3 linked regions of the Homo sapiens genome follow. Changing the gene in region 1 together with any one later gene gives a genetic interaction. Each region holds a gene or a part of one and is shown on either strand. Other genes may lie near its edges. The genes, in order: NOTCH1, HEY2 and APBB1.

Region 1 (7,100 bases):
TTATTGAGTCTGGTTTCTGTCCTGGCATCTGCAAACTCTGACCTCAAAATCCCGTGGCCCTTCTGGTCTGCCAGCCTCAGATGTAAAATGGGCACTGAGGGGGCCGGGAAGTCGTGCGGAACCGCTCCCTCCTGCCTGCCTGTGAGTGCCCATCAGCCGTGGGGAACTGTTCTGCTGTGGCCGATGCCCTTCAACTTGAGTCCATCCCTGATGAGAATAATGAGGAGGTGTTTGGTGTCTGGAAAAAGAGTTCCCTCCGCCCCCCAGGAGCTACAGATGAAGAAATGGCTCCCCAGCCAGTCTGCGCGCCCTCATTCCAACTGCAGAAGGTCCCATTCCCTTGACAACCCCAGCCCGGCTCCTGCCTGTGCCGACTGCCCAGCCTGTGGGCAGCAGGCCCCCTCCCTCCCCGGCCCCCACCCTCCCCAAACTGAAGCCAATTAAGCAGGTCTGTGAGCAGTTTAATGGACAAAGCCGATTGTGTCTTTGTCAGACACTAATGAATGCGCACTACTTTTTTTTTTTTTTTTTTTTTTGCTTTTTGGGGCCCCCTTCTCCCTCTGCAGAAGCCGCACGGACGCTTGATGCCCTAAATCTTGTTTCCTTTCATTCAGAGACCGACAGCTGGGATCCAGGGGAAGTGCAGCAGCTATTGTTGGGGGAGGCGGATTAATGCCGTGTGATTAATTATGCGTGGCTTCCCAGAATGTATAACCCCCTTCCCCGCCACTGCGCTCCCGGCTCGGACTTTGCCTCTCACCCATTCGGGGCTCTGGGAGAAGCTTCTTGCTCCTGCAGAGGACTTTGGGAGGGTGGGAGGAACACCGTGCTGGGAAAATTGGGGGCCTGTTGCTTCTTCTCAGTGGCACCAGGGAGTAGGCACAGCCTGGCCCACAGGGGTCTGGGACTGAGGTCTCCCTGGGCCAGAGCGCTGTGCTTTGGGGTACAGATTGCTGCAGCTCCCTGGTGTCTGGGTTAAAACCCTGCCACAGGGCCGCAAAACACTGGTGTCATGGGCCCACTTTCCCATTCCCCAAACCTGGGATCCCGGTGAGCTGTTTCCAGCCCAAGGCAGGCCGCCGACCATGGCTTTGGTGCCTGGCCTTGTCCCCTTTGCTGGGGCCTGGCGCCCCCTCCTTCTTGGCGGGAAGCCTGCTTCAGTTTGGCCTGACAGGCAGCCGAGCTCAGCCCACAGAGACCCCATTGTGCACACCCCACAAGTCCAACGAGAAGATGGGACGGAAGCGCGTCCTCAGGCTCCTGCTTCTGGGCCGCAGAGTTGGAGGCCAGGGCCACAGCCGAGCCCGGCTTGTGGAGGCACAGGTCAGGGCTCACACAGCAGTCTGGGGGACATTGCAGCCGCTTCGGAGAAGGCCCCGGGCTCCCTCCCTGGGCTTGAGCCCCACCCAACATACACCCCTCAGGTGCCTCTGCCTTCCCGTTCCTGCCCATCCTTCTCAGAAGGCCCAGGAGGTCTGTCCAGGAGTTAGCCAGGGCACCTGCAGGAGGCCTGGCTCCCCCAGCAAGGGGAGAAACCCACACTGTTTCTCGAAAGAGTCTGGGGTGCAGGCTCTTGGAGCCCTGCCAGCCTGAGTGGGAATCCTGGCCCCGTGGTATCCAGCTGTGACCCCGGAAAGAGCTTTGGCTTTTGGTGCCATTTGCTGCCTCCGCTGTAGAAGGGGCATGGTCATGATGGGCGTCACAGTGCCTGGCTCACTAGTACTGGGTGAATCATTTCTTTCCATCCCAAAGAGAAGGAACCTTCACCGGAAGCTGCCAATCAGGTGGTTGCAGGGCCCGGGATTGGAAAAAGTGGTTTTGTTGGTGCAAAATGCCTTCCCAGGAGGTCAGAGTGTCGCCGTGGCCTGGTCAGCCAGTGGCCAGGTAGAAAGCACCTGGCAGCACATGCTGGTGGGCGGAGGATGGTTGGTCTCTGGGCAGCTGCTGTGCGAGGTGTGGCCGTGGTGGCTGTGGTCGGAGATGGTGGCCTTCTGAGCAGGCCCAGGGGGTCACTGTGGCCCTTGGCTCTTCTCTAGCCCCCTCATCAGCTCCGTCAGTGTGAGCAAGGGGTACTGAAGAGGGCTCCACCTTTTTTCTCTTTGTTTTGAGGAGAGCTGGGAAGAGCTGCAGGGACCCTATCTGTCTGGGTGAGACTACGTCCTTGGTCTGAAACGCTCTCCCAGGGCTGCCTGCGTCTGGGCTGGGCGTTGAGGCAGGGGGCAGCTAAGATGTTGGCTGCTGACGGCAGAGTCAGAATGGCACGGGGCGTCTTCCAGGAGCTGGGAGAAATGGGGGTAGGCTGTCACACCCAGCACCTCCAGGAGGATGTCCAGCTGCCTGCTGGGTGGTGCGCTTTAGCTTTGGACAACCTCGTGTCTGAGGCCTGGCCTGGCCACTAGCTCTGTGACCTTGGGTCATCAGGTCATGCAAGCCTCAGTTTCCCCAGCATGTCAGCCGGGCTGATACACGCTGGATCTCTTGGTGGTGTGTGAGGATTGCATGAGAACCGTGTGGAGAGGGCACCTGGTCAGCGCTCCTTTCTTCCCCGCCTTCTCCCCGTTGGCTGACAGTGCTGGTTTCCAGAGCCTCCTTCCTGAATGTTTAATTGATTGACGAGTGAATTCAGAGAATCCTAAAGGTGCTGCCTGGTGGGCTGGGCCTGGCACTGCCTGGGGAGGGACTTGCCGGCTCTGGGGAAGTCCATCTCCCAGGATGGCTCCAGCTCCGGGGAAGTCCATCTCCCAGGGTGGCTCCAGTTCACAGACACGTTTGAGCGCCTGCTGTGTGCTGCGTTCTGCTCCAGGCCAGGCCCCCGGTGGGGACAGGGCAGACATGGCCCCTGCTCCTGTGGAGTTCACTTCCCAGCAAGGCGTGAGAGAGGCACCTAGCTCACATGTGGGACATGTTGGGGGTGTGCCGGCCCGGTGGTGGCCTGGCATAGCTCCCGGCAGCCCCGTAAAGCTGTCTGGATCAGGCACCGATAAGTGAGAAGAAGAGACCCAGAGAAGTCGCCATCAGCCCCAGGGTCACACAGCAGTGGCAGAATTCCTACTAGCCCTGCCCCTCTCCTTCTCCCAAGCGAATGTCCCTAAACACAGCCCCAGCCAGCCTGAGCTGCCCCGTCATTTCCCGACTACAAGCGGACTGGGGGCGTGGCTTCCCCTTAAAAGAAGAGGAAGGAGGCTCAGGCGGGAAGTGACTTGGCCCTGCAGCCGGCCTGGGAGGCTGGGGAGGGACGGGGTAGCTCCTGTCACCCGGTCTGGCTCTTTCCATTGAGTCACCTGCCTCGTCTTGGGCGTGGCCAGGGGAGGAACAGGTTGATTCTCCTCCTCATGCTGAGCTGAGCGGAAAGGCCTGTGACAGGACCTCCTGTTTATGCAGAACCTGGTCTTCAAGGGCGCCAGGGTTAGAAAAACATGTTTAAAAACATGCAGCATCCGAGGTGGGCAGATCACCTGAGGTCAGGAGTTCAAGACCAGCCTGGCCAACATGGCGAAACCCCCGTCTCTACTAAAAATACAAAAATTACCCAGGCGCAGTGGCGTGTGCCTGTAATCCCAGCTACTTGGGAAGCTGAGGCAGGAGGATCCTTTGAACCCAGGAGACGGAGGCTGCAGTGAGCTGAGATCGTGCCACTGCACTCCAGCCTGGGTGACAAAGTGAGACTCTGTCTCAAAAAAACAAAAAACAACAAAAAAAACCCCACACAGTGTCAAATAGAAAGTCTCACCTACTCAGACTGGGGAGACATCAGGAACAGGAAGGCCTGGGGCGGAGACTGGGGTGGGAGCCTGGAGTGCTCTGAAGGAAGCTGGCTCCTTGGGGCAGGCCCTGCCTCTGAACAGCAGCCAACATGTTTTCCATTGAAAAGAATAATAATAGAAAAAGAGAGAGGGAGAAAGAAAACAGCAACCCTGGCAGGAAGAGGGTAGGGCAGGGCAGACAGTGCACCAGGGGAAGTGCTTCCACAGGGCAGAGCTGGGTGCGGGGACCCCCAGATGCGGGCGGCAAACTGGAGACCCCACAGGAGCCGGGACTGGCTTCATTCCTCATTCCCTGCACCTGTGATGGGCAGCAGCGGCCACCGGTGCCCACTGGGCAGTTCCAGGCCGGGCCGAGGGACTGCACCCTTTTGCTGTGGGGAGGGGACCTTTCCTGTTTCATGTCTCGTCTATAAATAGTGAAAGGATGTGGCTTTGCAGAATCGATTGGGCGTCTAGCTTGCCTTCCTCAATAATGCAGCGATGACAGCTCCACACTCAGGACGCCGCTGTTACCCAGCCTCGTAAAAGCCCTGGCAGACGGCCGCCCACCCTCCAGGTGTGCCAGTGCAGTTTTCATCCCCAGCGCACAGGTGGGAAAGCTGTGGCTGCGAGGGCGTGGGGATCTGAGGCAGGCTGGCGTCAGCTTTCACCTTCATGTGCAGGCATATCCAGAACTTTCCGGATCTTTCCCCGGGCTGAGGAGGAAATACCAGCAGCTTTAACGAGCGGCTGGCTTTGGGGCATCACACCTGTGGGCCGGGCTGCGTTTGACGGCCTCGAGTTTCCCAGGCAGCGCTGGCGCTTTCTCCTGTGGGGCCCGGAGCTCCGAGGGGCTGTGAAGCAGGGCTGGCTCTGATTTGCTGTGCTCCCCACACTGTCCCCTCCCTGGGCCTCAGTTTCCCCATCTGTATGTGATTCCCCTTCCAACTACAGCCAGCGGGACCCTGGGGCGGGCTGAAGGCGTGGTGGTGGCTGTGGGCCCTGCGGCGAGGCCTGCGCTGGGCTCGGTGGTCGCCCCAGCTGGGGAAGGGGCAGTGGCTGCAGGGGTGGGAGGGTGGAGGGAAGCCCTTTTCCAAAGTTGCCTGGTTGGGTTCTCCTTGTGGCCCTGCCCCACCCCACCCTGCTCCCTGGGAGCAAAGGGAGCTAAGGACTGGTTTGGGGATGGATATGTATATGGAGGGATTCTGGGTGATGACTTATTCATATTACAAAATTTGCCTTTTTTTGTTTGTTTTTTGAGATGGAGTCTTGCTTTGTCACCCAGACTGGATTAGAGTGACGCAGTCTTGGCTCACTGTAACCTCTGCCTCCCAGATTCACGCGATGCTCCTGAGTAGCTGGGACTACAGGCACATACCACCACTCCCAGCTAATTTTTGTATTCTTAGTAGGGGCAGGGTTTCACCATATTGGTCAGGCTGGTCTCAAACTCCTAACCTCAGGTGATCCACCTGCCTTGGCCTCTCAAAGTGCTGGGATTACAGGCGTGAGCCACTGTGCATGGCCACTTTTTTGTTTTTTGAGATGGGGTCTCACCCTGTCACACAGGCTGGAGTGAAGTGGTGGGATCACGGCTGACTGCAGCCTCAAACTCCTGGGCTCAAGCGATCCTCCTGCCTCCGCCTCCAGAGTAGCTGGGACCACAGGTGTGCACCACCATGCCTAGCTAATTTTAAATTTTTTTGCAGAAGCGGGGTCTTGCTATGTTGTCCAGGCTGAAAATGTGACTTTTGAACTAAAGCATGCTGTTGCTTGACATCTAGTCCATTCACAAGTTCATTCAACCACTATCTAGTTCCGGGACTTTCTCACTGCACAAAACAGAAACTGTACCCAAATACTGTCACTCTGCCCTGACTGCCCCAGCCCCTGGCAACCACTAACCCGCTTTCTGCCTCTGAATTCGCCTCTTCTGGACGTTGCCTATGAATGGAATTGTGCCATAGGTGGTCTTTTGCCCCTGGCTTCTTTCACTGAGCGTGATGTGTTTAAGGTTCATCCATGTCACGCGTGGACTAGAACTGCATTCTTCTGAGGACTACATTTTAGCCTCCAGAAGCATCAGGGACTGGCCAGAGGTGGACCCCAGCATCCCAGCTCCCAGACAGTCCAGAGGAGGCAGGTGTTGGGAGGGCGTCCGGGGTGGCTTCCTGGAAGAGATGGCGCTCACTCTGGGCCGGTGCAGCCACCCGACAGCCACAGAGCCCCCTAGAGGGAGTCCTGGCATATTCCCAGGTGAACCTGTAGGATGGACTGGCGTGCCCGCGGCCCCTGTCCTGCTCAGGACTCCGAGACAGGCTCACAACCTGTCCCTGGGCCTCACTCATGCCAGCCGCCAAGCTGTTCAGCATCCCTTAGCCCCCAGGAGGCACACAGTGGGGCCGCGGTCACTGAGCGTCCACACGCCTGGTGCTGTAAGAATGCAAAGTAGAGGGTCTTTATTGAGCATCTACTACATGCTGAACCCTGGGGTATGGGTGGGCACGGCAGATGCAGGCCCCCCTGGGCAGGGGAGGAGCATGCCCCTTAAGAACCAGGCCACAGGATGGACGGGCTTGGCCACAAGCTAGGGGTAGTCACTGCAGCCTTCATGGCCTCCTGTGTGCAAAGTCAGTGCTGTGGGACCCCATCTGGGTGCACCTGCTGTGGCTTTCAAGTGAGGCCCACCACGGAGCAGCTTCCACGCTGGCTGGGACAGGGTCAGCGGCAGGGAGCTCCAGACCAAAGGAGCGGCGGTGGCTGGGGCAGCGGGGGGCAGTGAGGCTTTGGACACATCCATGGGGCGGGCAGGCATCTCAGCCCCCACCCGCCCAGTCTGCCTGCTCCGGGGCCTTCCCTTCCCTGGACAGAGCTCTGTGTGATTGGCTCCAGGCTGCTTCTCCCCCTGGACCCTCAGGGTCAGCTTAGAGTGACTGGCTATGCCCTGGCCTAGATCCAGGCCCGTGTGACAGGAGAGAGCTAGGAACCTGGCCCCTCACTCTGAGACACAGATGGTGTCCTCTCCAAGTTGCCCTTGGGACGGGGAAGCGCCATGTCCCCTGCAGGGCACCAGGCCAGCCAGTGGCCCTTGACAGCGAGGCCCTGTCTGCAGGCAGCTGGGGGACTTCTCCCTGTCGGGAGGATGCGTGCGTGTTAGCATCGGGGTGCCTGGTTGCCCCAGGGGTGGTGCAGGGCGGTTATAGGCGGTCCTAGCATTTTGGGGTTGCTTTCAGTGTATCTCCGAGACCTGTGGAATTCTGGGAGGAGAAACTCCCCAGCAGTGTCCTCAGTGCGCCCCCCTACCCTGTACCCGTTGCTCCTGGGAGGGATCCTGAGTGCTCCCCCCCACCCACCATG
Region 2 (7,931 bases), on another chromosome or scaffold:
TTTTTACCAAACTTCTAAAAAGATGACCCAAATCAAATGGCATTCTACCAACCCAGGGATTAAAAATGAAAGCAAATGGCTTGGTAAATAAATTTTAGTGGTATTATCATTTAGGAAATAGAGCTAGAGATGTTACTTCTTGGGCTCTGATTGTTTTTTAATTAAAAATATTACATTTTAAAAAAATTTTGAGAAAAAAATGGTTTTTTTTTTTTTTTTGAAGGATACGGTATACAGCACAGTTTTAAATAAAACCACTACTGGTATTCATAGAAAGAACAGAGAAAGCATGAACACTGTTACCCTTAAGGGGAAAATAAGCTAAAGAATGGAAATGTTTTTCAACTTCATGATGGATTATGTTTTTAATAGTTTTGCCACAACAAAGCATTTTATTGAAATAGCTGCTCTGTGCCAGATCAGGGCACATACACTATTATTTTAATGAGCTTTAACAAGAACCCACATTCCCAGATGAGCGAATCAGATTGTGTTTGAGCTTTTTTTTGGGGGGTGGCGGGGTGGGTGGGGGGATTCTGGGGAGGGGATAGCTTACTTGTTTTTCAAAAGCAGTTGGCACAAGTCTTCTCAACTCAGATAAACTGTTATTTATCCGATCCCGACGCCTTTTCTCTATAATCTATCCAAAAGAAGCAAACAACAAAAGTTTATGAATTCACAAATGATAAAATTACTCAAATGAAAAAATGTAACTGTTACACAATAGTATAAGTTACATGAAATAAAAAGGGGGAAAAATCACATACCCCTCTCCTTTTCTTTCTTGCCATAATCTGAGATGTTGTTGTTGGAGAATTCAATCTAATCACAGAGCTAGTACTTTGCCTATGAAATAAGAAGAGTATGTCAGGTGCTGCATTAACATAACAATAGTTTCTTCTGGGTACTTGTGGCACCCATTAAATATTCAGAGTGATTGCACAGTTCAAGTCTGTGTTATTTTATTCTTAGTTCTTGTTTCACTCTTAACGGACTTTGCTTTCAGCCCGGCTGTCTCTTTTCAGGTAAAAATTACGCCTTAATTTGTAATCCAGATGCTAACCCATTGGCCAAAATGTCCCACAATTTTTACTTGAAAGTCTCCCAGTGAAATAATTACCGGCAGTTGGGCTGAGAAGTTAGATATTAGCATTTCCTAGTTCCACTCATATATTTTAAAGTCAACTAATCTCAAATAGCTTTCCTTCTCCCTCCTGTCAGGCACACTGAACAAAATAATGCCACTTTTTCAAATCAGGGTTATGTTAAGCACCACTATCAAACAGATGTGCAGTCGTCATACGTCAAACTCTTGTCTCTAGGTGCAAACTTTAAAATAAATAGAAGTTATCTTACTGTTTCAAAACTTCAGTTAGTCATATATTGCAACAGGAAAAAATTGACAAACTTGATGTTTTGCATACTAATCTTCCAAAAATATGCCCTAAATATGCCACTGATAGGAAAATTAAAACTCATTTTATTACTAGGTGAATGTTTTACTTTGAAAATGAAACTGTAGGTGTGTCTCAGACTTTAGGCTAAGCTTAAATCTCCAGAAGCTGCAATGCACCTTGGATTTACTAATGAAAATATATTTTTATATTGAAGGTTCAATCAAAGTATTATTTGGTCACATAATTTTTACAATCCTTTCTAGTTTGTATCTGTTTCTCTTCATAATTCATGGATACTATGCTTCTTTGTGTTCTCAAATTCCCCAGGTTCCTGTTATTTGTTCTCTTTCATTTTAGAAATGCTGCACACACCAGGTTGCTATTACCTCACCTTCTCACTTCTGGATCTTATTTCTGAATTACCTGTCCCCCTCATTTTCACCCCTTCTTTACGGGTTTCACCTTTCACGTGATAGCTTCTGTTTTTCAGACCTCATTTTTAAAGACGGCACAACAACACTTTAATGATCAGATACTTAAACCTTTGCTTTCGTGTAAATATCTTTGCTCTTGCAGATTTTGTGCTTTGCTTTGTATGTATTAGAATAACAATATGAAAGAAAACCAGTTTTCCAAAGGTAGGAAGAATTTCCCTCTTTGAGTGACAGCTGCAGATAAATAATTAAGGTGCTTCTGGGGATGCCAATTAGAAGCAATTATCATTTGACCCGCCTTGGCTCTAAAATGCCTCGGTAATCTCCCTCTGTCACAGGAAAGTGGAGGTCTGGCTTCTGTGATTACGACGCCGATCTCTTCCAGACTTGAGAACAAGCAGTCAAAGAAATGATGCCCTTTCCGATGCTTACATCTGTCACTCACTCTTGCGTTAGCCAAGTCACACACGGTCAACCTGCAAAGTTCAACCTACGTAGCCTTGACATCGCAGGTTGCTTTAATTCCTCCAAAAATCAAGTTGTGATTTTGGTATCTCTAAAAATCAAAAATCAAATTGTTTTTATTTTCTCCTGATCTATTTTGAAAGTGCCCCCAAATACGGTTTCAGTGGCTGGGACATCGCCTGTCGCCCAGACGCTGCCGTTCGCGCGTCCAACTGTGACAGCCAGGACCCTCCCTCGCCAACTCCTGCGCTCTGCCTTTCAGTGGCGTCTCCCATCCTGGCTACTCCACCCCTACGGTGAAAATCCACATCCCTTGCCCCATCCCAACTCACGCTCTGCGAGCGCCCACCACTCAAACTTTCTCAGGCCAAACTTTCCCTCTCTACCTAGATGCTGCGGAGACCAGCCTCGGGATTTCCAGGGAGCCACGCATTCACAAAGCTACCCCAAGCTCCCGAGCTGCGGGCCGCTCCCGCGGAGCCCGCGCTCACCCCGAGTAATTGTTCTCGCTCCCCACGTCGATGGTCTCGTCCATGTCGCTCTCGGAGGTCGTCTCCTCGCAGGGGCGCTTCATCCCGGCGAAGACCGCGCGGGGCACAGCCCGGCCGGAAGCTCGGACGCCGAGCGGGGCGCAGCACCCTGACGCCCGCCTCCTCCCTCCCCGGGCCTGGGCAGGCGCGGCTCCGGCGGCGGCGCGGTCTGCTCCTAGCGGCTCTTTCCCACGCCGCAACTCTGCTCGGCCGCAAGAGCCGGCGCCGGCCACGCCCCCCCCTCGAGCGGGTGGGGCCACCTCACCCGCCCCCGCGCACCGGCCCAGGCCTTCCGCCCGGCACCTCCCCCTCGCTGGTCGGCGTGGCTCGCGATTGGCTGGGCCAGGGGGCGGGGCCGCGCTCGCCAATGCCCGCCGCAAGGCTCCAGCCGAGGCGTGGGAACGCGGCCGCGGACCTGGTACCCCAGAGCAGCGAGCGGGTGGGGAGCAGCCGGGGCGAGAATGAGCGCAATCTTGCTAACCCCTGCGGAGGGAGCGCGCGGGCGCCAACGCGGGCGCGCGGGGGCGGGCCCTGGACCTGGACCTTGGGTTTCGGCCCTCCTCCGCGCCCCGCGGTCTCGCGGGCGAAGTTTCAGTCCTGAGTGTAAAGAATAACCCCAAGCGCGTGGCTAAGTGCGAGCAGGCGCGTGTGACGTCGGGAGGCGCCGCGGCTCCTCGGCCGCCCCACTCGGTGGTCCCCTGTCTGGATCCAAACTGCTGACTGGCTGACCCGAGTGGTCACATTTGCCCTCTGGGGCTTTTGAAAACCTTAAATCAAAATTGCTTTTGAATCTGACAACTCCTGAGGCTACTTTCGCGGCCTCGGGGCTGTTTCATATAAGGACGCGAGTTTTCCTGATCAGGTCTGTCGGCCACGTTACGATTTCCAATTTGCGATCCATCAGTTACTTCCATTGGGTCTTCAGCCCCCAGGGACTGTGGATCCTAGACCCCGCGGAGAAGCCCGTGGACTGGAGCTGTGTCAGCTCTGATGGTAGGAAAGACTAGATCAATGACGCGGGCATTTCAGGACATAATCGTATATTTTCAAGTTCGAGTTTTTCGGGCTTGGATTATCCAGATAATTGCCTCCAGTCTCCTCCAGTCCCCCTGGTGTATGCACTCGCAGCCGCAGAGTTAGAGTCCGGGAGGTGAAGATTGGCGCTTGGAAATTAGATTTGGTTTCTAAAGTATGAATTCGTGTCCAACAGTTCGTGCCTTGGACAACGTGGGTTGTATAAAACTCAAGCTGTGTGTTTAAAACAGGTTTTCTAGCTGCTGGTTCTCTCCAAGTTATGTAGGACTTTTGAACTGGCCACCCCGCTGTGCGTCTGCGAGGGCAGGGACTGAGCGAGACCCAGCCAGGGGCGCCGGGAGACTGGCGGCGGCTGGGTTGGGGTCCAGCCGGAAACCACACGTTGGCAGGGCCGCTTGGTCAGTAGTGGAGAGAGCCTCTGAGAAAGGGCCGTCTATCGATCCCCAGACCCCTCCGTCACGGAGGGATTCATAGCTTCCTGGGGATCGGCCCAGGGCGTCCCTTTGACACTCCGTTCTCTGTCCACACAAGCCCGGCGCGGGGCGGGGAGAAGAGGAAAGGACGCGACTGGGAAAGACGGGACCCTGGCGGGGTTTGGCCCGGGGGAGAGCGGGAAGGAGCCCGGTCGGCGCGGAGGACCTGCGGCCAGCGTGCTAAGCCCTTATTAGAACAGAAACCCCTTTCCCCCCACACTCTCATCTCTTTTGCGCGGTCCCCACCGCCATGCCTTCAATAACCTTGTGAATAGAAACCCGAATCGTTCCATCTTGGCTTCTGAAACTTAACCCCAGGCAAAGCACACACTCGGCGGGGCCAGGTGGGGCTGGATGGGGTCCGCGCCCGACGGCGGGGCCGCGGGGGTCGGTGAACCCCAGCTCCCCTGTCGGCCTCAGGGCGGATGGCTGGGTCGGCGCGGGGTTCGGGGCCTCCGATCGGCTGCACGAGGGCGGGCCAGGACCCAGACCCCGTCCCCGCTCCGGCCCCGCAATCCAGCGGGTGACGAGCCTGACGCGCGCCGGTCGCCTGCCACCTCCCGCCCCGAGCGCCCTGGGCCAGTACCTCCCGGCCGCAGGTGAACGCTCCGCGGCCCGCCAGGCTCAAGCTCGACCGTCACAACTTTCCGTGAGGGCTGCACGTTTTTCTGAATTCAAATGCCTGCAGGTGCAACTCATGTTTGCCACACGGGCAATTAGCGGGCGCGTCCAAACGCCTGAGGCAAAACCTGAGATCATCACTGAAAAAAAAAAATCTAACAGTTCTTTGCCACTATACTAGTGTATTTAATTATGATTGCGAAAAATTGCAGAGGGAAACGATTTGCTGGCAATTAAGTAGCAACTGGTTAAAGTTTTTTTTCAATTTGTCTTTGAAGACAACTGCTGTACTATGTATAAAGAAGAGTATAGCAGGGAAGTTCGAAAGCACACACGGAATTTTAAATCTGTTAAAAATATTTTTTAAGCAAAGAAGGTGGTATTTTAAAAGCATTTAAAACAGCGCCTGGTATATAGTAAGCGCCATAGAAGTCTGTTAAGAATGCATAGGGCAAGAGAGCTCAGGGTTTTGAACGCTATCAAAATAATATGCTTATTTATCTGCAAAACACAATAGCAATTAGGCAGCACGAGATTTCCCCATTAGGTCGTTTATTCTCCTCAGCTGTTTATTCCATTTGCCTGTCCCTTGGTTGAGCGCCTTGTCTGTCTATAACCGAAAGTGCGTTTCGGGTCAGAGAGACAGAAACAGACACAGGAAACCCTTTAAAGCGCCCCCGCCGACTTAAATACGGTAGTGGATTGGAGGTGGGGAGGTGTAGGGGAGGCGTTATGTGGAGAGAAAGAAAAGAGAAAGAATGAGGGAACGGCGGGATTTCAAGCCTCCCCGCCCTTCTGCGACAACCTTTTCAGCGAAAGGGAAGGCTTAGGAAGAAAAGATGTCCGCGCGTAGAGCAAACCGCAGTTCTTTCCTTTCTTTTTGAAGGATTTGTACCATGAGTTAATTACACCAAAAGATACGAGGGACTTTATTAGAAAGGAGATGCCGTTAGGAAAGAAAGGCCAGGACGGCCGATCTAAAGGGAATGGAGAAGGGAAGACTCAGACGCCCTCCCGAAATTGGTGGTCTAGCCTGTGTTTTGTGCTAAATGTTATTTAACTTAATGGCGTGGGAGTGAGATGTTGAATGCAGAGATCTGGAAATACCAGATTTAGTGGTCCTGTTCCTCCTCCCCGACTCTTTTCACACCCATTTAATAAAAAGTTACAGTTTTTACACCCGTATTGATAAATTTGGCGATGTTGGCCAAGTATTATCTCGCCCCGCAGATTTTGAATTTTGTTGCACAAACCGATGAAATGATTGCTTTGCTATAATTGTAAAACTTTTTTGGAACGAACCTGGATTTTTTTTATGCCTCTTCATCTACTTTTTGCTTCATTAGAGCCCTCTGGTTTTCCAAGATCGACTGTCACACTTTGTTATTTGTTGCTTCTCTAAATCCTTTGAGATGCTGCTCGCAGCTACGTAAAAAACGTTGGCCACTCAGGTATTTGATGGGCTTAGAAAGTCACCAAGATGTGACACCATTTAAAAGTTTTAGCTTGGTTTCTCAGTGAAATAAGGGCATCTCTGTTAATTAGAAAACTTTGTGTTAGTCTGAGATGCCTAAGAGCATAGTCCAAATTGAAAATTCCAATATTTTGCCACATCTGAAATATAATTATTTACACAGCCTTCTCTTTCAAAGGGAGGACAAACAGGTTGCCTTGAGAAGAGCTATTCTATTTGCAATTGCTGGGGCAGGTGACAAACACGTGTGTATCTGTGGGCAGCCTTGTTGGGCTGCCTTCCCTGACTACAAGGCTTTTGTGAGCTGGTAACGCCTTAAAATGTGTGAGAATGCTGCGCCCTAGGAGTGGAGGCCAAGGGCAAGATCCTTGTACATTTCAATACCTTTTCCAACATCAGGCTGGCAGCAGGCAGGCCAACCTAGGGTCACTGTGTGACACATATTTGCAAGCCAGTAAAGCAAAACAAAGCTGAAAGCAAGTGCAAATTTAGGCCCACCAACCTTGAAGTCATCCCTGAAAGGGAGCTGCTTTACTAGTTAATTTTTCTTGCCCAGTCAGCCACACAAAATGCATTGTATTTCTTGGCTTGCCCCAGTAATTGCGACTTACTTGTTACAGCAGAAGCTTCAAGGTAGGAAATCTATGACCCAAAGCTCTCTCTCGAAAGTTAGAATGTTTAAACTGATCTTTAAAACTGTTGTTGAGGGGCAATTTATTTAAAAGCTTTTATTTTATGGTGTTGTTAGTGCTTAGCATGCCTCAGGATAAAGACTAGTTTTATTGCAGGACCCTTGAGAAGAGGGGTGTATAGCAAGTAACCAGTTTTCCGTGTGCCAGTAAGCAACAGTGAGAACACTCAGTGTATTAGCTTAACTTTTTGTGGGAGTTAAATTGATGTTGGCAGGCTTTGCCTTTAAGGAAGTTCTTTTAAATTTCCATTTTCTTGAAGTTGGTTTGATTGGCAGATTTCCCCCCTCTCTTAAGGATACAATGAAACATATTCACTTCTCTTATGAAAATATTCTTTTAATAAACTACATTCCCATCCCCTAGAAAAATGCCCAGCACACAGTAGGGGTACAATAAATGGTTTCAGATTAATTTCTTGTTAAAATTAATGAACTCTCTGCTTCTTTACTTGTATATGTAGAATTTACACTCATTGGAATAATAAAATAGAAGTAAGCAACCGTGCATTAAAAAGCTATGAAAAGATGAAGAGAATATGCCTTCAAATGGGAAGGAATACTTAACTGTGAATAAGACCTAGTTCAACATGGAACTTCCTGGTGGCCAAGTCAGAAGAGAAGCACAGTGAGTTTTCTAACTTTCATAATGAGAAAAGAGAAAGCACACTGTTTTTCAAAAAAGAAAGTTATTACCCAGTCACTGAATTCTAAAAGAACTTCATGCTTGCCTTGTTCATGGACTTCAAATAATTTAATTATTTAAAATAATTATTTTGTCTAAAATTCTCATGTGTCTCTGTTAATTATAACA
Region 3 (7,807 bases), on another chromosome or scaffold:
CTCCTCAACCCTTTCCAAACCTGCTTCCACTCCCAACACGACTCAGTAACAGCTCCTACCAAGGTCAACATGACCCCTGTGTCATTCAATCCAACAGACACAGTGCTCGTCTTGGTTGTCCTCCCAGCAGCATCTGACCCCGTGAATCTCTCATCCAGCCTCTATCCGGGGCCTCCACACTCTCATCTCCACACTCCTCATCTCATCTCATCTTTTACACTTCTTGTTACTGTTTGCTGGGTTCCTAGACTCCTCTGCTGGCTCATCTTCCTCTATTAGCCATTACCTGCTGGAGTTTCTTATGGCTTATTCTCATGCCCCTTCCTCTTTCTCATCCTATAATCAGTATAAGTATTCATTAATGCCCACAGCTTCAGTTATACACTGATGATTTCCCAATTCAAATCTCCATTTCAGACCCCTCACCTGAGCTCCAGACAAGTACATTCAACTTTCTACTCAACATCTCCACTTGGATGTCTCAAGCTAATAGACCCACTCATGTTTCCCACTCCCACACACTAACTGGTCCTCTTTCAGGATCCCGGCTCATGGAATGATAGAATCCATCCTATTCTGTGAATCTGAAGTAGGGGTACATCTTGACATGTCCTTCTCCTGCACTTGCTATGTTCAATCCATCTCTAGGTACTGATGATTTCCTCTCTGAGAAAAATTTCTGGACTTCATCTACTCTCCACATCCACTACCATCAAGGACAAAGACCTTAAGACAAAATTCCCTTTTTTTTTTTTTTGCGATGGAGTCCTGCTGTGTCACCCAGGCTACAGTGCAGTGGCAAGATCTCGGCTTACTGCAACCTCTGCCTCCCGGGTTCAAGCGATTCTTCTGCCTCAGCCTCCTGAGTAGCTGGGATTACAGGCACACACCACCATGCCCGGCTAATTTTTGTGTACTTTTAGTAGAGATGGGGTTTCGCCATGTTGGCCAGGCCGGTCCTGAACTCCTGACCTCAGGTGATCCGCCCGCCTTGGCCTCCTAAAGTGCTGGGATTACAGGCGTGAGCCATCACGCCTGGCCCTTAAGACCAAATTCTTAACATGGCCTAAATTTCCTGCTCAGTCTGGCGCCTGCCTTCCTCCTCCCTGCCCCTGGCTTTGGTCACACTGCTCTGCAGCCTCAGTAGCCTTCTTCTGATTCCTCGAAGACATGTGTTTTCCTTCTACAAGGTGTTTGCATGTGATTTCCATGCTTCCTGGGACCTCTTCTCCTACTCTCTAAGCTGAATTAACTTCTACTCATCCACTATATTTTAGTTCAAACGTCATGTTCTCAGAGAAGCTGTCCTCCAACCCTCTCTCCCTATCCCCGAGACCAGTTTAGCTACTGCTCTTGTGCGTTCTCAAGGCACCATACAGCTTTTCTTCATGGTACATATTACATTTGTAATGTTATTCTTATTTGATTTTTCTCCTAGATTGTCAGCTCCAAGGACTCAGTCTCTTTTGCTCACAATTATATCTTCAGGACATAACACAGTGCCTGGCATATATTAGGTGCTGAAATCATATTTATTGCATGAATAAGTGATTGGAAGCATTTTTCAAAGGATTACTCTGGGTACTGTGTTGAGAACAGTTAAAGGGAGGTAGGCAAGAGGGTATGCTATTAAAGTAGTCAAGGAAAAAAAATGGTGGTGGCCCAGATTAACTTTGGTGGCAGTGAGGAAAGAGCGAAATGAATGGATTTGAGAAATATTTAGGCAGTGGATGTGACAGAACTTGGTGAAATGAGATGCAGAGAGTGAGAGAGGGGTTAATCTCAAGTCTTGCTCATGACTCCAGATTGGCAAAGAGCCATTTTTGAGATTCGAAGGAAGAACAGATTTGGAAGTGGGGTACAGAGAAAACCACAGAAGATAATTTAGCTTGGAATCTATAGGTTTGGAACTCCTGTTTGTCTTTCAAGGAGATGTCAAGAGAGCAGCTGGACATATGAGTCTGGATTTCAGGAAAGAAGTCTGGGCTGGATATATAAATTTGGGAATCATTAGCATATATATGAAATTTGAAGCTTTGGGAGTAGATAAAATATCTGGGGAGAAAGAACAGATACTGAGAGAAGACAGCTCGGGACAGAGCCAAGAGCCTCACCAGCATCTAAAGAGAGGAGGAGAGGAAGCAAATGAGATTGAGAAGAGCAGACAATGCTGTAGGGCAGAAAGCAGGAAAATGCTTCAAGGAGAGTGAGTTGACATACCCCACCGAATACTACTCAAAGGTAAAGGAGATAACAGTGTCCACTGGAGTTCTCCACAAGGAGGTCTCCGGTGACCTTGGCCTAGACAGTTTCAGTGGGTGTCAGGGACACAGAGTGGAGTGCTTTTAAGAATGAATGGGAAGTAAGGAAATGAAGACAGCAAGCGTTGACTCTGAAGGGCGGAGAGAGCTGGGACTATAGCTAGAGGGGCTCAGAATGCAAGAGATACACAGGCCGATACAAAACAGGTTAGGAATTGGCAGTGGGAAAACTGCTTCTAATCAGTGTTCTTGGCAGTGCTAGGCCTCCTGGCTGAGCTGGGGACACAGCCGCCCCAGGGCACACCCCTCGGTCGCTGAGGGCAACAGAATGCGGCTTGACAGATCCAGGGCCTGGGACCCCTGCTGGAATCGGCGCGGCCTGCCAGCCCACCCCACCCCACGTCCCCTTCCCGGACCTGGGCCTCCCCTCCCCCAACACCCACTGCCCCTCGCTTCGCGTCCTCCATACCCGCCCCTAGTCACCCCGAGGGGCAGGAGGTAAAGGGCAGCGGAAGGGACGGTGTGAGGGCCCGAGTGGACCCTGCGATGGTGGGTATGAGAGGACGGTCTGCGGGCGCGCGGTGGAAGGGCGACCCGGGGATGGGGGATGGGGCCGGCCGGGGGACCCGGGCTGCCGCAGGGTAGGGGCTACAGGGTCCGCCGGCCGCTGGTGATCGGGACGCAGCCACCGGGGCTGGGCCGGGGCAGGGACACCTCCTACCTGCGCGGTGAGGCCCCGGGCCCAGATGACGGAGGTGGCTCAGGCTGCGGGGTTCGGGCTCCGCCGCGGCTTCTCCATCACAACATCCCCCGCCCAGGAGCGCGCGGGCCGCGGGGCCGCGCCCCGAGCGGCGGAGGCGCGCGCAAGGGGAGGGGGAGGGGCGCCATCTTGGGGCGGGCGCGGGAGCGAGCTCGGCGGGCGCGGCACTTGCCGCAGCTTCTTGGGGGCCTCACCCTGCGGGCGGCCCTCGGACCTCGGTGAGCCCCGCGGTCCAGCCCTCCCAGCAGACACCCCTGCAGCCGACTCCCTGGGACCCCCGCCTAGCGCGGCGCCGTCCTCCACTACTATTCCACAGACTCACCCTGCGCGCCCCGCAGCGCCCTGGTCCCGCACCCACGCCGGGAGACGCGCGGACGGGGCTGGAGCCCGAATGGCGGCGGCTGTGCGGCGCCGCGGCCGCGCGGGGAAGGATTCCCGGGAGGCACTCTGCGCCGCTCCTGCTGCACCGCTCCCTGACGTCCTGGTGGGGAGGCTCTGAGGACACAGCGTTGCTCATAATAATAGCTCGTATTTATTGACCACTTACACCGTGCCGGGCTCTCTATTAAACCGTTAACGCGCATTAATCTTCACATCAGCTCTGTAAAATCACCAGAATTATTATCCTCATTTTTCAGAGGCTGAGGCTAAGATTAAGAGAGGTAAAGCGACTTGCCCGCAGTCACAGTTAGTGATGAATTTAGACTGGAACTCCGATGTTTCTTGACACTGAAATACCTCTGCTGCTGAGCATAAAGCTGACATCAAGGCCTGGAAAATGTCAAGAATACATTGCTCCCCGGTAGAAATTCACAAGGAAGGGGATATTGTGAATGAAAAGTGTAAAGATGTAAGGAAGATGGTGGGGTGCAATACTTACTACAGACCCTCCCTGGATAGTGGGATACATCCCAATGGTCAGATCAGTGACCCAGAGGCCATCAAGGATAATGAGAGGTTATATTACCATCCAGAAAGCCTCTACATGCTAATCCCTCTCAGGTGCCTAAAACTAAAGATATCCAAATCTGAGTTCGTTCTTTCTTTCAAGGCAGGGTCTCACTCTGTCACCCAGGGGCAAGATCATGGCTCTCTGAAGCCTCAGCCTCCAGGGCTCAGATTCCTCCCGCCTCAGCCCCCGGAGTACCTGGGCCACAGACATGTGCCACCGCGCCTGGCTTTTTGTATTTTAGTAGAGAGGGGGTCTCACTGTGTTCCCCAGGCTGGTCTGGAACTCCTGTGTTCAAGCGATCCTCCCACCTCGGCCTCCCAAAGTGCTGAGATTACAGGCGTCAGACACAGTGTCCAGCCTCAATTTATTGTTTCATCCCCCTTTATTAGTCTTTTAAGGAGTTTCACTGGGGTGAAAAAGAACCCTCTTCAACACACACAACACAACACACATCCCACACTGGACACAACTCCATTCCATCCATTCCAATGAATGACACCAACTACTGGCTTCCCAAGCCAGAAGCTTCAAAGTCATCTTTGAATATACTTTTATTTTACTTGTGGTAAATATAAATGTTTTAACTTTTTATTATGGCAAATTTCCAATATATACTAAAGCAGACAGAACAATATAATGAACCCTCATATACCTATCATTCAGTTTCAACAATTATGAATTCACAACCAATAGTTTATAATGATTTGACAAATGCCTATGATATATGAACCATGTATCAGGTCCCAAGCCAGGCCCTAGGGATCTAAAGACGAATCAGATTTGACTGCATCTCACCTGGAGGAAATGACATCTGACCTGGGTTCTTGAAAGATGAAGAAGAATTACCCAGAAGAACAAAAGTGTCCTCATTCATTCATTCATTCATTTTCTTTCATCAAATAATTACTATGTATGAGGTACTGTCCTTGGTGCTAGCAACAGGTCAAGAAACAAGATACAGTTCCGTCTCTCATACAGCTTGAAATTTAACAGGGGAAAGAGACATTAAATATGTAATTAGGAATGTGATGAGTGTCTTGAAGGAGATGTACCGGGAGCTATGTGAGTGGGCTTAATTTGGCCTGGGAAGTTTAGGAGGCTTTCATAGGAAGTGACAATTCAGTGAGGGAAAGGGATGAAGGAGCTAGAGGTCAGCCAGGAGAAGAGAAAAGTATTCCAAGTAGCAGGAGAAATACAGGAAGGTCAGTATGGGTGTTGATATAGTTTGGATATTTGTCCCTGATCAAATCTCATGTTGAATTGTAATCCCCAATGCTGGAGGTGGGGTCTGGTGGGAGGTGTTCAGGTCGTAGGGGTGGATCTCTCATGGCTTGGTGCTGTCTTCCCCATGATGAGTGAGTTCTTGTGAGATCCGGTTATTTAAAAGTGTGTGGCATGGCCAGGCGTGGTGGCTCAGGCCTGTAATCCCAGCACTTTGGGAGGCCAAGGTGGGCAGATCAACTTGAGACCAGGAGTTCGAGAACAGCCTGGTCCACATGGTGAAATCCCATCTCTATTAAAAACACAAAAAAATTAGCTGGGCATGGTGGCGGGCACCTGTAGTCCCAGCTACTTGGAAGGCTGAGGCAGGAGAATTACTTGAACCCAGGAGGCGGAGGCTGCAGTGAACCGAGATCACGCCACTGCACTCCAGCCTGGGCAGCAGAGTGAAACTCCATCTCAAATAAATAAATAAATAAATAAATAGTGTATGGCACCTCTCCCCCCACACTCTCTTGCTTCTGATCAGCCATGTGGGATGCCTGCTCCCACTTTGCTTTCTGCCATGAGTAAAAGCTTCCTGAGGACCCCCTGGAAGCCAAGCAGATGCTGGTGCTATGTTTCCTGTATAGCCTGCAGAACTGTGAGCCGATTAAACCTCTTTTCTTTTCTTTTTTTTTTTTTTTTTTTGAGACAGAGTCTCGCTCTGTCCCCCAGGCTGGAGTGCAGTGGCGCAATCTCGGCTCACTGCAATCTCCGCCTCCCGGGTTCACACCATTCTCCTGCCTCAGCCTCCCAAGTAGCTGGGACTACAGGCACCCACTGCCATGCCCAGCTAATTTTTTGTGTTTTTAGTAGAGATGGGGTTTCACCGTGTTAGCCAGGATGGTCTCAATCTCCTGACCTCGTGATCCGCCCGCCTTGGCCTCCCAAAGTGCTGGGATAACAGGCATAAGCCACCACACCTGGCCCTAAACCTCTTTTCTTTATAAATTACCCAGTCTCAAGTATTTACTTACAGCAACACAAGAACAGCCTAACAGTTGTGATAGTGGAGAATGGCATAAGATGAAATAGGAAGGTGGGAAAGTGCCAGATCAAGGAGGGCCTTATATGCTGAGCTAAGGGTTTGACCTTTATTTTAAGGGCAATGGAAAATCATGGAAGGGTTTGAAGCAGGAGAGGGGCATGTTCACACTCGCATTTTAGAAGATCGCTTTCAGCTCCTGAGGAAGAATAGATAGGTGGAAAGCAAAATTGGAAGAATATAGACCAGTTAGGAAGCAAGAGACCAGGTTAAAGATGATGATGGCTTGGACTCTGGTGGTGGGACTAGGGATGGAGAAAATTGCATAGGTTTAATAAATATTCAAGAGGTAGAATTCCCAGAAATCAGTGATCAGTTGGTTGATTAGCTATGGAATTGTAGATTTAAAAAATGACATCTAGATTTATTTTTGAGAAAATGAAAAAAAAAATCCAGAAGTATCACCCATTTACAGATAGCCCACCAAAATATTTGTCTTCCCAATCTCATTGAGCAGGAAGGCTGCAGTATTCAGGGAAATCTCTTCAGGTAAGAAGGACATAGATTGCATGATGAGGTTGAAGGGAGGACTCTAATTAGCTAGGGATGCCCATGTGCAGTTCACATGGGCATCTTTTTCCTTATGTATTTGACCCGCAGGCGATCTTCCTGAATTCCTGATCTCCTCTGAGGTCTGCAAAGTCTCCTGACCAATGGGGAATCAACCTGTGCCTTTCACCCATCCTTTCCCTACTGTAATCTCTTCCCTCTTCTGATGCTTTCTATGGTGTGGGAGCAACCAATGAATAGCCTATGAGCCACCTCAAATGCTGCATTTGGTTCTGACCAATGTGGGTTCCTCTGAGGCAGCAGACTTTGAAAATTATTACCTTGGACCTATCAGGAAAAAATTGAATTATAAGCAAATCCATCTAGAGTCATTTACCAAGAGTAGTGGCTTTATGCTATTTGGTTTGGTAGTCTAGCTAATTAGAATTACTAGGCAGTTGGCACCCAAGTCACCTATATGAAAGTATAGAGCTTTCATCTCTATTAAAAGTAAAGACACTTCTGGAATGAAGGCAGCTTTATCCTCCACTATATATAAGTACTGCTTTGGTATTGTAAATTTTCTTATGATTGATCTGACACACCTCTTTTCTTCTTGATGGCGGTTTTCATTTGGAAAATCTATAAGGAATAAAGTCTTCCCACATGCTACATGAAGTGGAATTCCTAAGTCAAATTCAAGACCTAGCAAAAACTTTCTCAATCCAATACCCTTCTTCAACAGAACTATTCTTTTGTTTGTTTATTATGAAGAGATGGGGGTCTCACTATGTTGCCCCAGCAGGTCAGGAACTCCTGCACTCAAGCAATCTTCCCACTTTGGTCTCACAAAGTGCTGGGATTACAGGGGTGAGCAACCAAGCCTGGTTCAACAGGACTATTCCAACAACTACCTAGAAGAGTATAGAGTGAGAAGAGAAAAGGACTGAGAACTGAACTCTGGAATGCCAGTGTTTAGGAGCCAGCACAGAAAAAGACAGTCAAGAAGAAAGCTGAGAATTAGCAGAAGGGTAAGA

What was found.
Region 2: changes in NOTCH1 (region 1) and HEY2 together harm fitness more than expected from each alone (negative genetic interaction), as found in Homo sapiens cells (one study listed by BioGRID).
Region 3: of NOTCH1 (region 1) and APBB1, changing one suppresses a phenotype caused by changing the other (phenotypic suppression), as found in Homo sapiens cells (one study listed by BioGRID).

What each region holds. Positions count from the first base shown.
Region 1 is NC_000009.12:136,535,981-136,543,080, reverse strand, and holds part of NOTCH1 (neurogenic locus notch homolog protein 1 preproprotein), read left to right. Parts: intron 1-7,100. UniProt on the Homo sapiens protein: Functions as a receptor for membrane-bound ligands Jagged-1 (JAG1), Jagged-2 (JAG2) and Delta-1 (DLL1) to regulate cell-fate determination.
Region 2 is NC_000006.12:125,744,716-125,752,646, reverse strand, and holds the start of HEY2 (hairy/enhancer-of-split related with YRPW motif protein 2), read right to left. Parts: upstream 3,016-7,931; 5' UTR 2,871-3,015; coding exon 2,788-2,870; intron 2,778-2,787; exon of another isoform or gene 1,121-2,777; intron 847-1,120; coding exon 768-846; intron 641-767; coding exon 557-640; intron 1-556. UniProt on the Homo sapiens protein: Downstream effector of Notch signaling which may be required for cardiovascular development. Transcriptional repressor which binds preferentially to the canonical E box sequence 5'-CACGTG-3'.
Region 3 is NC_000011.10:6,416,003-6,423,809, forward strand, and holds the start of APBB1 (amyloid beta precursor protein binding family B member 1), read right to left. Parts: upstream 3,093-7,807; 5' UTR 2,983-3,092; intron 1-2,982. UniProt on the Homo sapiens protein: Transcription coregulator that can have both coactivator and corepressor functions. Adapter protein that forms a transcriptionally active complex with the gamma-secretase-derived amyloid precursor protein (APP) intracellular domain.